Homo sapiens: one gene and its partners. The protein of the gene in region 4 interacts with the protein of the main gene of each other region in a biochemical or structural test. Each region holds a gene or a part of one and is shown on either strand. Other genes may lie near its edges.

Evidence for each region.
Region 1: of the proteins of MAPT (region 4) and MAPK13, one has a biochemical effect on the other in vitro, tested with the Homo sapiens proteins (2 studies listed by BioGRID).
Region 2: the proteins of MAPT (region 4) and LCK form a complex in vitro, tested with the Homo sapiens proteins (2 studies listed by BioGRID, with this or other methods).
Region 3: of the proteins of MAPT (region 4) and PPP2CB, one has a biochemical effect on the other in vitro, tested with the Homo sapiens proteins (2 studies listed by BioGRID).

Annotation. Positions count from the first base shown.
Region 1 is NC_000006.12:36,142,767-36,145,270, reverse strand, and holds the end of MAPK13 (mitogen-activated protein kinase 13), read right to left. Parts: 3' UTR 750-2,504; downstream 1-749. UniProt on the Homo sapiens protein: Serine/threonine kinase which acts as an essential component of the MAP kinase signal transduction pathway.
Region 2 is NC_000001.11:32,275,265-32,279,013, forward strand, and holds part of LCK (tyrosine-protein kinase Lck), read left to right. Parts: intron 1-56; coding exon 57-155; intron 156-304; coding exon 305-408; intron 409-649; coding exon 650-799; intron 800-1,072; coding exon 1,073-1,225; intron 1,226-1,342; coding exon 1,343-1,522; intron 1,523-3,749. UniProt on the Homo sapiens protein: Non-receptor tyrosine-protein kinase that plays an essential role in the selection and maturation of developing T-cells in the thymus and in the function of mature T-cells. Plays a key role in T-cell antigen receptor (TCR)-linked signal transduction pathways.
Region 3 is NC_000008.11:30,784,867-30,788,818, forward strand, and holds the end of PPP2CB (serine/threonine-protein phosphatase 2A catalytic subunit beta isoform), read right to left. Parts: intron 1,442-3,952; coding exon 1,369-1,441; 3' UTR 750-1,368; downstream 1-749.
Region 4 is NC_000017.11:45,981,289-45,985,288, reverse strand, and holds part of MAPT (microtubule-associated protein tau), read right to left. Parts: intron 2,424-4,000; coding exon 1,359-2,423; intron 1-1,358. UniProt on the Homo sapiens protein: Promotes microtubule assembly and stability, and might be involved in the establishment and maintenance of neuronal polarity.

The sequences.
Region 1 (2,504 bases), on a different chromosome or scaffold from region 4:
GACCTGAGCCCTCGCCCTACTCTGGGCCTAAGTGTCTTCATCAGTAAAATTGTTTAGAGGGACCACAGTAGGGCAGGGATGGAGGAGTTCCACCCATTCTGCAAACTAGATATAGAGGCCTCCACCAATTCCCTAACACAGGGTTCCCCAACCCCCAGGCAGGGGGCCGATACCTGTCTGTGGCCTGTTAGGAACGAGCTGCATAGCTGGAGGTGAGCCGCAGGTGAGTATTACAGCCTGAGCTCTGCCTCCTGCCAGATCAGTGGCGGCACAAGATTCTCATAGGAGCACGAACCCTATTGTGAACTGCACATGCAAGGGATCCAGGTTGCACGTTCCTTATGAGAATCTAATGCCTGATGATCTGAAGTGGAACAGTTTCACCCAAAACCATTCCCCACCCAAAACCTTTCCATCCATGGAAAAGTTGTCTTCCACAAAACCAGTCCCTGGAGCTAAAAACGTTGGGGAGTGCTGCCCTAGCAAAATGCCCCAGTCAGGTCCATTTCTACCCAGATGGTGAGGTTGGGCGGTCCAGAGGAGCGGGCCCTGATGAGTGTGTGGGCGTCCAGGTGCAGTGCTGGAAGTTTCCAGCCTGGCTCCATGATCATAGAGGGTGGGGCTGGGGGGTTTGTTAGGAATTGACAGAGGATACCTAAAGCCTCATTTCAGTAGCTAGAACAGCCTCATTCCAATAGCTCATAACTGGGGTCCACAAACTATAGAATTCAGGGGTCTGTGCACTTGGATTGGAATAGAATACAACTTTATTTTCAGTCATTTCTATTTCCTTGGTTATGAACAAAGGTAGCAAAGTGCAGTTGTATCAGCAGTGCCAATAGAAATTACAGAGTTTTTCATATCCCTTTACAGTTTGCCACAGGTATCTATCTTAAAATATTGTTTACACTCATCTCTCTTCAGTTTACCATTGTTTAATAGGCCTACCCTCGATCTTTTTATTCAATATGTTAATAAAGAAACCTATACACATAGTATCACGTTATACATTTTAAAAATATTTTGACAACTGTATATAAATATAACTAGCTTACTTTGTAATCCTACATATTTTATGTGTATGAAAATATTATTCTGAAATTAGCCAGGCATGGTGGTGCATGCCTATAGTCCCAGCTACTTGGGAGGCTGAGGTGGGAGGATCACCTGAACCCAGGGAGGTCGAGGCTACAGTGAGCTGTGATTGCACCACTGCACTCCAGCCTGGGTAATGGAGTGAGACCCCATCTCAAAAGAAAAGAAAAGAAAATATGATTTTGAGAAGCGATCCATGGCACAAAAAATGGCCAAGAGCCCCTGACTGAGAGGGGCCCTGTTGACACTCACATGCCACCCGCCCAGAGTGAGGGCAGCTGCCCAGCTGAGCAGGGACCCCGCAGGAGGAACCAGAGCAGGAGAATCCCTGGCACCACCCTTGCTCCAGTACACACCCATGGGTGCTCAATGAAGAAGTGAGGACAACTTGCTGCCATCTTCAGTTTGATGGAATGGCCTTAGGCCTCTGCTGCCGATTGTGAAATCATCGGCCTCTTACCTAAAAGCTCAGGAGGATTTAGGGGGAATGCAGATAGAGCACATGAGTTCACTGTGTAATGAAGGAAGGGGAGCCTCCCAGCATTAGATCTTAGGGAATTGTTCAAATTTAAGGAAGCAAAAGCCAAGAGTTGGGAGGAGAGGCAGGGAGAGATTCCTCCCTCCTCAGCTGTAGCTATAGCATTGCTTGGGGCCATGGAAAAACAGTTTTCCACACCCTAGCAGACAGCAAAAGCTATTTCAATGTGCCAAGTGAAAGTTGAGCCATGCCCTCATCCAAACTAGCCCCCAGCCTCACGCAGGCAGCTCCGGGCACCCGTGCACACTGGGTTCACCCTTACGGAGCTGTTCCTCCATCAGGCAGCTCTGGGCACTGGTGCACACTGGGCTTGCCCTTACGGGGGCTATTCCTCCATTTCTGTCTCCCCTTGTGCTGCCCCTCACTGGGGGCAGCACCACCCCAATCCACGCCAGGCAAGCCCTGCCCTGGGACACCGCTGCTGTCTGTTTTCATGGATGACTCAGGCCCCAGCAAAGATACTCTTTGTTCCTCAAAAGAGGGAATGGAGGGTACACTTGCTCTTAGGAAATGTCCCCCACCTTGCAGTCTGGCTTCCTGATCTCTCTCTGTTAAGATCTTTTAAGCCACCCCATCAGCCACAGAACGAAGCGCATCCACCAAGAATACCTGAGCCCACATCTCCCCCTCCCTCGCCCCGCCAGCTCCTCTGCCCCCCACAGCAGGAGAATGGACTTGTTTCCTATTACACAGGCCATGTGCCCACTGGGCAAGACCCAAACCCGTGGAACCCCCACTCCCTCTACTCCCCACCCCCTCCACCCCCCACCTTGCACTGCTGAGCACCTCCACCGCCTTTTGAAGAAACTTCACAGATTTGAGAAAACTCTGTGGGAGGGGCTGAGGTTTAATTCCGGAGTGGGGATGGCCT
Region 2 (3,749 bases), on a different chromosome or scaffold from region 4:
GGAGGGTCTCAGGTCGACGGCTGAGCGAGCCACACTGACCCACCTCCGTGGCGCAGGAGCGGCGAGTGGTGGAAGGCGCAGTCCCTGACCACGGGCCAGGAAGGCTTCATCCCCTTCAATTTTGTGGCCAAAGCGAACAGCCTGGAGCCCGAACCGTAAGTGGGGACCCGTCGTGGGGGTGGGTAGGAGCAGATCTAGGGATCCTGGAGCAGGGAGTAGGCCTGGGGTGGCGGTGAAGGCTTGAGGGCCACGGAGGAAGATCCGACGACAGCCGACGGCCTTCGTTCGCTTCCGCCCTGCACAGCTGGTTCTTCAAGAACCTGAGCCGCAAGGACGCGGAGCGGCAGCTCCTGGCGCCCGGGAACACTCACGGCTCCTTCCTCATCCGGGAGAGCGAGAGCACCGCGGGTGAGCGGGCGGCGGTCTCGACCGGGCGCGGGGGTGCCCCGGGGTGTGCCCGAGGGGGGGCGCAGGGTGAGCCCGAGGTGGAGACACGGGGTGAGTCGGAGGGGGACGCGGGATGAGCCCGAGGTGGGGGCGCGGGATGACCCGGAGTTGGGGGTGCTGGGTGAGCCCAAGGTGGGGGCGCGGTGGCGGGCCAGACTCACTGCGTTCTTTCGTCGCTTTGTCCATCCATTCATTCATTCAGGATCGTTTTCACTGTCGGTCCGGGACTTCGACCAGAACCAGGGAGAGGTGGTGAAACATTACAAGATCCGTAATCTGGACAACGGTGGCTTCTACATCTCCCCTCGAATCACTTTTCCCGGCCTGCATGAACTGGTCCGCCATTACACCAGTGAGCCCGACGGGACCCCTCCCCCGTGCCCTATCAGCCTATCTCCCCTCAGTCCCCCTCAGGTGTCCCCCATCCATCTTTCAATGCCCTACTCCATTCCCCGCAGTGGGTGAGGTGTGGAACCTGACCCTACGGCCCCAAGTGTTTGGGTGACAGCCCCACACCCCCTTGCTAGTCCACTTCACCTAGATGGGGGCTTGGAGAAGTGGGGGAGGTGGTGTCAATACGAGGCCTGCCCTATTGACAGCCTTCACCCCTCCCTCGTCCTCGCAGATGCTTCAGATGGGCTGTGCACACGGTTGAGCCGCCCCTGCCAGACCCAGAAGCCCCAGAAGCCGTGGTGGGAGGACGAGTGGGAGGTTCCCAGGGAGACGCTGAAGCTGGTGGAGCGGCTGGGGGCTGGACAGTTCGGGGAGGTGTGGATGGGTGAGTGTGGCCTCCAGGACTGCCTGGGAAGAGGGGAACGGGAGGGGCCGCTGAGGTGATGAGAGTCCCAGGACAGCTGCCTGGCGACTTTCCCACTCCTTCCCTTCCCCGACCCAGGGTACTACAACGGGCACACGAAGGTGGCGGTGAAGAGCCTGAAGCAGGGCAGCATGTCCCCGGACGCCTTCCTGGCCGAGGCCAACCTCATGAAGCAGCTGCAACACCAGCGGCTGGTTCGGCTCTACGCTGTGGTCACCCAGGAGCCCATCTACATCATCACTGAATACATGGAGAATGGTGGGTGCTACCCGAGTCGGCTACCAGGGGATACTGCTCTCCCTGCTGTCCCTGCCAGAGGGTGGAAATACACCTTTTCTTCTGGCCCAAAGCTCAAGCAAGGAGGGTTTCTTGAGCTTTCCTGCCCCCTGGAGACTCACCTCCAGCCGGGCGCGGTGGCTCAGGCCTGTAATCCCAGCACTTTGGGAGCCGAGGCGGGCAGATCACGAGGTCAGGAGTTCGAGACCAGCCTGACCAATATGGTGAAACTCTGTCTCTACTAAAAATACAAAAAGTAGCCAGGTGTGGTGGCACATGCCTGTAATCCCAGCTACTCAGAAGACTGAGGCAGGAGAATCCCTTTAATCCGGGAGGTGGAGGCTACAGTTGCAGTGAGCTGAGATCATGCCACTGAACTCCAGCCTGGGTGACAGAGCAAGACTCTATCAAAAAAAAAAAAAAAAAAAAGACTCACCTCCAGGCATGAGAAAAAGGTGTATCCTCTGATCTGATCCTGTCTGGGGGCAAGCCTAAGGTGGCAAGAATGTTCTGGAAGAGCATTCACCCCAACCTTCCCTGACCTGCCATTCTGTTTGCCTTCTTCAAAGCCCTACCTTGATCTCAGGATGCTTGATCTCAGAAAGCAAGTGGGTCCCTAGCCCTGTTTCTCTCCCTTCTGCCCCTGAGCCCTAGGAGGGCAGATCTGCCCCCAAAGCCCTCTTTTTCAGTTCTGAGTGAGACCCCCACCCCTGCACCCCTCTTGGTCTGTTACTGGACAGAGTGAGAGCCCCAGGAAGAGGAATATGAGTTTCTAGCTTCAGCTTTGTTCACACCGATTTGCCGTGTGACAGGCCAAGTGCCTGCACTGTCTCTGGTGCTCAGTTTCCCCAAGTATAACAGCAGAAATCTAAATGGGCTCACCAGAAATAATACAGAGTATTCATCAAGGCCTCTAGAGTCTGACTGCCTGGGTCAGAAGCCTGGCTTCATGATTTTATGGCTTTGTGATAATTATATCACCTCTTTCTGCCATGGTTTCCTACTATAATAACGCGTTAGTAACTTCCTCACAGGGTCTTGTGAGGATGAAATAATTAATGCATACAGAGCAGTTAGAACTATGCCTACTTCCAGGTGCTGTGGCTCAAGCCTATAACTCCAGCACTTTGGGAGGCCAAGGTGGGTGGATCACTTGAGCCCAGAAGTTCAAGACCAGTCTGTGCAACATAGCGAGACTTCATTCCTACAAAAAAATGTTTAAAAATTAGCTGGGCATAGTGGTGTATGCCTGTAGTCCCAGCTACTTGGGAGGCTGAGGTGGGAGGATCACTTGAGCCCAGGAGGTTGAGGCTGCACTGAGCTGTGATTGCACCACTGCACTCCAACCTGGGTAACAGAGCGAGACCTTGTCTCAAAACAAAAAACCCACAAAACTATGGCTACCATATAGTAACTGATCAATAAGTTTGTTGCTGTTATCTGGCTCTGATTCTTTGGGAGTGTAAGATCTATCCTTTTTTCAGGAAGAGAAACAAGCTGTTCATTGGCTAATGGGAAATGGCAAATAGATTATGTCATGTGTATCTTTTTTTTTTTTGAGTCTCACTCTGTCCTCCAGGCTGGAGTGCAGTGGCATGATCTCGGCTCACTTCAGCCTCCCCCTCCTGGGTTCAAATGATTCTCATGCCTCAGTCTCCCAAGTAGCTGGGACTACAAGCATGTGCCACCATGCCTGGCTAATTTTTGTATTTTTAGTAGAGACAGGTTTTCGCCTTGTTGGCTAGGCTGGTCTCGATCTCCTGTCCTCAGGTGATCCTCCCGCCTTGGCCTCCCAAAGTGCTGGGATTACAGATGTGAGCCACCATGCCCAGCCTATCATGTGTATCGACTTTGATTGGTAGTTGCTTGTAGTGCTGGAGAAGGATTCTGAGGTTCATTGGAAGTGAGTGCCAGGAATGATTAGTAACATCTGCCATGGATACAATGGAAGAATGGCAGTATATCTATGTCTATGTATTTGCTGTGTGTAGGTGAGGTCTTTGTCTTTGGTAACTAGTTCAGCACTCAAAGTGGGGACACTCAGGTTGCTGTCATCCTTTTACAGGGTTTTAATCTCTTGGGAAGGGCCATTGGTCACTCACTGCATCCTAGCAACTCCCATCCATGTCCAGCTGCCCTCCACTATTAGAGAGGTGGTCCCTCAGACCCCCAGACCCCCTCTTTCTTATTCCATCCAATATATTCAGCA
Region 3 (3,952 bases), on a different chromosome or scaffold from region 4:
ATTTTTCGACTGGCTTTTTTTTATGGTCTAAAAGTTATCAGCTATTTGAATTTCTTCTGAAAGTAAGTCCTGTAACAAAGAATATTACAATAAAATTTCCTCAACACAAATGTTTATTTCAAGTTTAGAGATTAAAAATTTTTTTAAAAAAAATACAGAGATGGAGTCTCACTGTGTTGCCCAGGCAGGTCTCAACCTCCTGAGCTCAAGCAATCCTCTTTTCTCAGCCTCCCAAAGCAATGGGATTACAGGCATGAGCCACCATGCCCAGCCTATTTTTTATTTTTTAGAGATGACATCTTGCTATGTTGCCCAGGCTGCCCTCAAGCTCTTGGGTTCAAGCCATCCTCCACCTCAGCCTCCTGAGTAGCTGGGACTATAGCCATGTCCCATTGCCCTGCTTTGAAAGATTTTATGTCGTTTCAAGATAGCAGGCCAGGTGTGATGGCACACATCTATAATCTCAAGAATTTGGCAGGGCCACTTGAGGCCAGGAGTTCAAGACCAGCCTGGGCAACATAACAAGATCCCGTCTCTACAAAATATTTTACAAATTAGCTGGGTGTGGTGGTATGTTGAGTGTAGTCCCAGCTACTCAGGAGGCTGAGGGAGGAGAATGGCTTGGGCTCAGGAGTTCAAGGTTGAAGTGAGCTATGACTGTGCCACTGCACTCCAGCCCAGATGACAGAGCAAGACCTGGTCTAGAAAAAATAAAGTTTTCATTTAATGCACAACACAATAAATGAATGTTTTTGTTTAAAATGAAAAGTTTATTTGCTGAGTACACCAAATAGGATGCAAGCACTGTCATGACAAATATACAGAAATATGCAGATCAACATAAAACAGTAATTTAGTTTAAATGAAGGGAAATCTCTTTAAATGTTATGACAACATACTCCCAAGAAGAACCTTTTCTTCAGTTAAGTTAATTATACATTTCAATAAAATAAAGGATAATGGATTAGTGGAAGTTAGCTTGTGAATTTTTCTTAAAAATAAAACTCCAACTCTATTAATCCATGCCAGTTAAACACTATAACTAAAATTTCCAAATAAGCGCAAAAGGAGATGAAGCAGTTAGTTACCTTTTTTGCTTGAACAGTCCAAAGGAAAATGGTTACTATAAATACAGCAGGCAAACTGTTAGACTGACCTAGAACATAGTGTACTAAATTTCAGTCTCAAATTGTGCTAAATGCTCATCATTAGTATGGCACATTTGGTCCATGATGTGGTTTAATGCCAAGACAGATCCCAATTTGTTACAGAAACACATAGATTACTGTTGCTTTTTGTTTTTAAATACATATATTTTAAAAAGCCAGGTATACTTCCACATACAAAGGCAGGTTTCCCAGGAGAAATTTATAGGAAGTAGTCTGGGGTGCGCCGTGTAACATGAGGCTCACCACGACGAGGCGCTGGGTCAAATTGAAGGCTGTAAATGGCAAAAAAGGAAGCAAATAAAGGATCTGACTTTGCAAAGAAAACAAATGAATAAAGAACAAGACACTGTAGTAGAAACAGCAGTCCTGCTTTCCCACCATGACTACATCACTTACGGCTGGAATGGCCATGGGCAAATCACTGCAGATGCTCCCATTCCAACTAACTGCTTCATAGGGCTATGGTGAAAATTTAAGAAGACAGAATGTCTGGTTTGGTGCCTGGCATAACAATTTCTAAATGTTATTATTATTTAAAAGCTTAAATAATTAAAGATTAAATAATATCAAGTTTAAATAATTAAACAATAATTGTTTAATATTATTTAATAATAATAATAATATCACTTTTTTTTTTTTTTTTTTTGAGGCAGAGTCTTGCTCTGTCGCCCAGGCTGGAGTGCACTGGCACGATCTCGGCTTATTGCAAGCTCCGCCTCCTGGGTTCATACCATTCTCCTGCCTCAGCCTCCTGAGTAGCTGGGACTACAGGAACCCATTACCATGCCCGGCTAATTTTCTTATTTTTTTTTAGTAGAGACGGGGTTTCACCGTGTTAGCCAGGATGGTCTCATCTCCTGACCTCATGATCCACCCGCTTCGGCCTCCCAAAGTGCTGGGATTACAGGCGTGAGCCACCGCGCCAGGCCTAATATCACTATTTTCTTGAGTGTTTCTGGCTAGTGGATTTTTCCAATTATTTTTGTGCCTCTATTGAGATGATCATGTGTTTTTTAATCCCTTAATATTAATATGGTTTATTATATTGATTTTCATGTTTTGAACCAACCTAGCATTCCTGGGATAAATCCCACTTGCTCATGGTGTATAATCTTTTTACATATTGCTAGATCCAGGTTGCTGGTACGTATGTTGGAAAATTTTATATCTGTATTCGTAACAAATGCTGGTCTGTTTTTGCCTTTGTCTACTTTTGGTATCAAGGATAATAGTGCAGGTGTGACAGAATGAATGCAGTAGTCCTCCTCTTCTGTTTTTTGGAAGTGTTTGTGAAGGATTGGCATTAACTCGTTTTTATTTTTGAGACAGGGTCTCACTCTGTTGCCCAAGCTGGAGTGCAGTGGTGTGATCATGGCTCACTGTAGCCTCAACCTCCCTGGGCTCAGGTGATCCTCCCACTTCAGCTTCCTGAGTAGCTGAGACTATAGGCTGAGCCACCACACCAGGTTAATTTTTGTATTCTTTGTAGATACAGGGTTTTACCATGTTACCCAGGCTGATCTTGAATCCTGGGCTCAATCTGCCTGCCTTGGCTTCCCAAAGTGCTAGGATTACTGGTTAGAGCCACCGCACCTGGCCAATTCCTTTCTTTAAACATTTGGTGGACTTCATCAATGAAGCCAATTGGGCTTGGCCTTTTATTTGTGGGGAGTTTTAACTTTTTCACTCATTTATTTATATTCTTTTAAATTAAATAGGGACAAGGTCCTGCTATGTTGTCCAGGCTGGTCTCAAACTCCTAGTCTCAAGCAATCCTCTCAGCTTGGCCTCCCAAAGCTGGGATTTATAGGTGTGAGCCACCATGCTGGCTCAATATTTTCACATTTGAAAGGTCATTCAGATTTCATATTTCTTGAGTCAGTTTCAGTAGTTTCTTTTTAGGAATTAGTACGTTTTATCAAAGTTACTGAATTTGCTGGCATATAGTTATTTATTGTATTCCCTTATAATCCTTTTTATTTCAGTAAGGTCTCTAGTGATTTGGTAATGTGAGTCTTTACTCCTTTTTTTCTTGGCCAGTCTAGTTAAGGCTTTTCAAAGCATCAACTTTGGGTTTTGTTGATTTTTCTGTAATGATTTTCTACTGTTTGTTTATTTCTACTCTAAACCTCGTTTCATAAGCTTACATCAGGTTTAGTTTACTCTGCTTTTTCTAGGTCCTCAAGTATAAAGATAGGTTACTGATTTCAAATCTTCTTGTTTTTTTTTTTGTTTTTTTCTTTCTGAGACAGGGTCTTTGCTCTGTTGCCTAGGCTGTAGTGTAGTGCTGTGATCATAGCTCATTGCAGCCTTGATCAACTGGGCTCAAGTGATCCTCCATCTCAGCCTCCCATACAGCTGAGACTACAGGTGCTTGGCACCATACCTGGCTAATTTTTAAATTTTTTTGTAGAGACGGGGTCTCCCTATGTTGCCCAGGCTGGCCTCAAGTGATCCTCCTACTTTGGCTTCCCAAAGTGTTGGGATTACTTGTGTGAGCCACAGCATCCAGCCATGTTAATGATTTCTAATTTCATTTCCTTGTGTTTGGAGAATATCCTTTTAAGAATCTAATCTTCTTAAATTGCCTGAGGCATGTTTTACAGTCTAGCATATGACTATGTTTCATGTTTACTTGAGAGGAAAGTATTCTGCTGTTGTTGGGTGTTGTTTTACAGACATGAGGTATACAGTCAGTTTACAGTGTTGCTCAAGTCTTCTCCTGCCTTCATCTCCTGCCTAGTTGTTCTATCCAAGAGAAACAGTTTCTGTTGCTTAGTTTT
Region 4 (4,000 bases):
TGTCGCCCAGGCTTAGGGTACAGTGGTGTGATCTTGGCTCACTGTAACCTCTGCCTCCTGGGTTCAAGCACTTATCCTGCTTCAGCCTCCCCAGTAGCTGGGACTACAGGTGCCCGCCACCACGCCCAGCTAATTTTTTGTAATTTTAGTAGAGACAGGGTCTCACCATGTTGGCCAGGCTGGTCTCGAACTCCTAACCTCAAATGATCCACCTGCCTTGGCCTCCCAAAGTGCTGAGATTACAGGCGTGAGCCATCGCCCCCAGCCTCTGTCTTAACTTTTAAACACAGGCTTCTTTATAGCATTTCAAAGTTTTCCCTAAAAGTAAAATCTAATAAAAATTTAACAGATGCTTGCAACTGTGAGCTTCAGTAACATCCATTTCTGGGCTCTGCAAATAACTGTGAAATGCTAAGGGTCCCAAATTTATGAACAAGCTCGCCTTGTGGCTCTGAGGTCTCCTGTGGGACACCAACTCTCCTCTCCCTGATACTTGGGACTCTCCTCCCACCAATCCCTCCCTGCAGGGCTGCTGTGGTCGTGCTCCTGAGGGCTCAAGGTGGGCCCTGCTCAACCCCCTCCAATGCCAGCATGAGGATCCCCTTGTCCTCTGCAGAGGGAGGTGGTGGCATGTGGACCAGGGAGATCTTGTGTCTGCTCCTTGTCTTCCTGCCACAAGGCAGAGTGGGTGGGGGCAGGGCACTGGGCCAAAGGCACAGCATGAGCTCTGGGCCACCTCTGGATGCTGTGTGTGTCACCTGCTGTGTGTGCCCTGCACATCTCTGTGTTAGGCGTCCACACTCCAGCACCTCCTGGGAGGCGTTGTGGGATGCAGGACAGGCGTGTCTTTCAGAGACAACCTACCTGGATCCCAAACCTGGCTCTGTCACTTACTACTCATTGGCCTTCGGCAAGTTACTGTACTTCTCTGAGCCTCCGTTTCCTCATCTGCAAAGTGGGGCTGCTTATGCCTACATGGGAGGGTTGGAGAGTTCTAGACACCATGAGGGCACCCGTCATCCTGTCGGTGGAAGGCACCCACCAAACCTCCTGTGGGCTGATGGGCCGTTGTGGACAAATCAAGTGGCCAGAGAGTCAAACAAGGTGGGTAGCACGGAGCGGGGGTGCTGGTGACATGCAGAGTGGCGGGCAAGCGTGAGGGGCGCGTGCGGCCACAGCCTGAGCACGGGAGGAGGCCGAGGGAGTGGAGCAGCTGCACCCAGGTGTCGATTTAGTGGCGTCCTAGGAACGTCAGAAGCAGCAGGAGTCGGGAGGCCTGGAAGCTCAGTGGCAGTGCCCGCAGCCTGGGAGGCCTGGGAGGTCCCCAGGGAAGGAGCGAAGAAGCTCAAGACACAGACCTTTGAGTTGAGGGACCCGGCTGACGGGCTTCCCCCGCGGAGCAGCAGCAGGCTGCTTTTCAGAGGGCTCTGGAAGGTCAGCCTCTTTTGTGTCCTCTCCCAAAGAGGGGCCCCGGGCCTCTGGCCCCTCTCCAGGGGCCCCTGGAAATGCAGCCCTTCCCAAATGCTCCTCCGAGTGCGCCTGCTCCTTCTGCACGTTGGGTGTGATTTCCACGTGAAACGTGAACTCCAGGGGGGCATCCTGCCCTTTGGCCCGCCCTACACTGGGCCCGTCGGGCTCTGAGGCTGGGATCTCTGTGGAAACTTTGGAGAGGAAATCCACAGGGAGGGGGATGGCACCCTCCGCTGGGAAGCCTGGGATGCTGGTGGCTTCTCTGGCGGCTGTCTGGGGAGGCCGCCCATCTTGGGCTGGGGAGGCCTTGGAGGGAGGGGAGTCTTGGGGGGAGGACTCATCGACGTCGCGGTCTTCATCCACCTCCTCCTTGCTCCCCGGCCTCTCTTTGCCCCCTGCCCCCTTCAGCGGCGGCCCCTCCTGGTGCAGGTCTCCTAGAAGCTGGTGCTTGAGCAGCTCAGGGGCGTGGCGGCCGCCCTCTGTGTCCTCAGGTCCTGTCCCCGAAGGTTGGCGTGTGGCCTCTCTGGGGCCCTCAGGCAGGAGGGGAGCCCCAGGCATGCCGGACATGAGCTGGTGGCTCAGACCTGGGGGGCCTGGCTCTCGGAGGAAGCCTTCCTGGACCACCTTACCACTTTCAGGCTCTGTGTGGAGATACGCAGTGGTGGCGGGCTTCGGAAAGGCCGGACCCTTCTCGGCCCAGTCCCCGCCTTTTTGTCCCCACTCCAGGGAGGGCTCCTGAGGGCCTCCTGTTGGAGGAGGCGCTGGGCAAACGGGACGGTGCTGAGGAAGGCTCGCGGTCAGCGGGACGGGAGCTTCTGGCTCTTTCTCCCCGAGGCACGGCCCAGAGACCCCAGAGGCCTCTCCGCAGGGTCCAGGCTGGACGTGGGCGCTAATCTCATTGGCCAGGGGCCTTTCAGGCGCCTTCCTCTGCCGGCCCGGAACTCTCAACTCCTCTGGTTTGAAGAGGCAGCGATAGCAAAAGGTTAGCAAGGGCGCATTAATCGCTTAAGAGAGGGAGCATCATCCTGGACAAAATGACACTGAGAGGGCATCCCAGGCCCCCTAACAAAGAGATGGGAGCACAGCTCTGGGCTCGTCTCGTTGCCTTTGCTTGCTTGGAATGACAGCTCTCCTGGTCTAGCCGCCACCAGCTCGCTAGGTGGCTCTCCCCTCTCTGGGCCTCAGTTTCCTCATCTGTAAAGAGGGTTCTTGGACGTGGTGACCTCCGAGGGCCCTTCTGGTGTGGGTGTTATTCCTCTGCCTATGATGGGCTCTGGTTGGGCACAGAGCATGTCACACATCTGGAGCCGCCCTGGGCTTAATCTACTGGGAAAGCGGGAGGGCTACAGAAGCTTCTCCTGCTTTCTAGGGAATTTGAGCCTCCCAAAGATTCTAGCCTCTAGATGGTATCTGGTTTGGGTGTAGCGAGAATCCCCTTTCCTCTCCCTACCTCTCACTGTTCTCCTGCCCCCGCCCCCCACCCCTTTTTTTTGGTTTGAGACAGAGTCTCACTCTGTCGCCCAGGCTGGAGTACAGTGGCACGATCTCAGCTCACTGCAACCTCTGACTCCCTGGTTCAAGCGATTCTCCTGCCTCAGCCTCCCGAGTAACTGGGATTACAGGCACGTGCCACCACACCTGGCTAATTTTTGTATTTTTAGTAGAAACGGGGTTTCACCATGTTGGCCAGGATAGTCTTGATCTCCTGACCTCGTGATCTGCCCACCCCGGTCCCCAAAGTGCTGGGATTACAGGCATGAGTTTTTTTTTTCCTTTCTTTCTTTCTTTTTTTTTTTTTTTGAGACAGGGTCTCGTTCTGTCACCCAGGCTAGAGTGCAGTGGTGCAATCACAGCTCATTGCAACTTTAACTCCAGGGCTCAAACAACCCTCCCATCTCACCCTCCCAAGCAGCTGGGACCACAGATGCATGCCACCACGTCTGACTAAAATGTTATTTTTCATTTTTGTGGAGACGGGGTCTCCTTATGTTGCTCAGGCTGGTCTCGAACTCCTGGGCTCAAGCAATTCTCTTGCCTCTGGGATTACAGGGATGAGCCACCATACTTGACTTCTGCTCCCCTTTTTGGTAAATGAAACCAGTGAAACTAGTGCCCACAAACCCCGCCTCAAGCCCATTCTCTGACAGATTTGGAAAATCCAAAATGTGTGATCATCAAGAATGGAGTCTTTACTGAGAGACCTGCCATAAGACTCCTCGAAAAAGAAGCCCCATTCAGATCTATCCAGGTCACTGACCACAGACAAGCCCTTGGCACAGGTGAGGTAGGCCCCCGTGGGAGGAAGGGCTCTGCACGGCAGACAGTGACGGCCCTCAGGACCACTGCTGTCCCCTGGTCACACAGCTTGCTGCACACCAACCCAGCTGATCAAGGGCACACTTCATTTTTTTCTGGTTCATTCACGTGACATTCATTAACCTGGCCGCATATTAAGAACAGGAGAATTACACTCCTTGGTTCTCCTAATAAATACCCTTTATGTTTTTTAACTCCCAACTCTTTGAACACC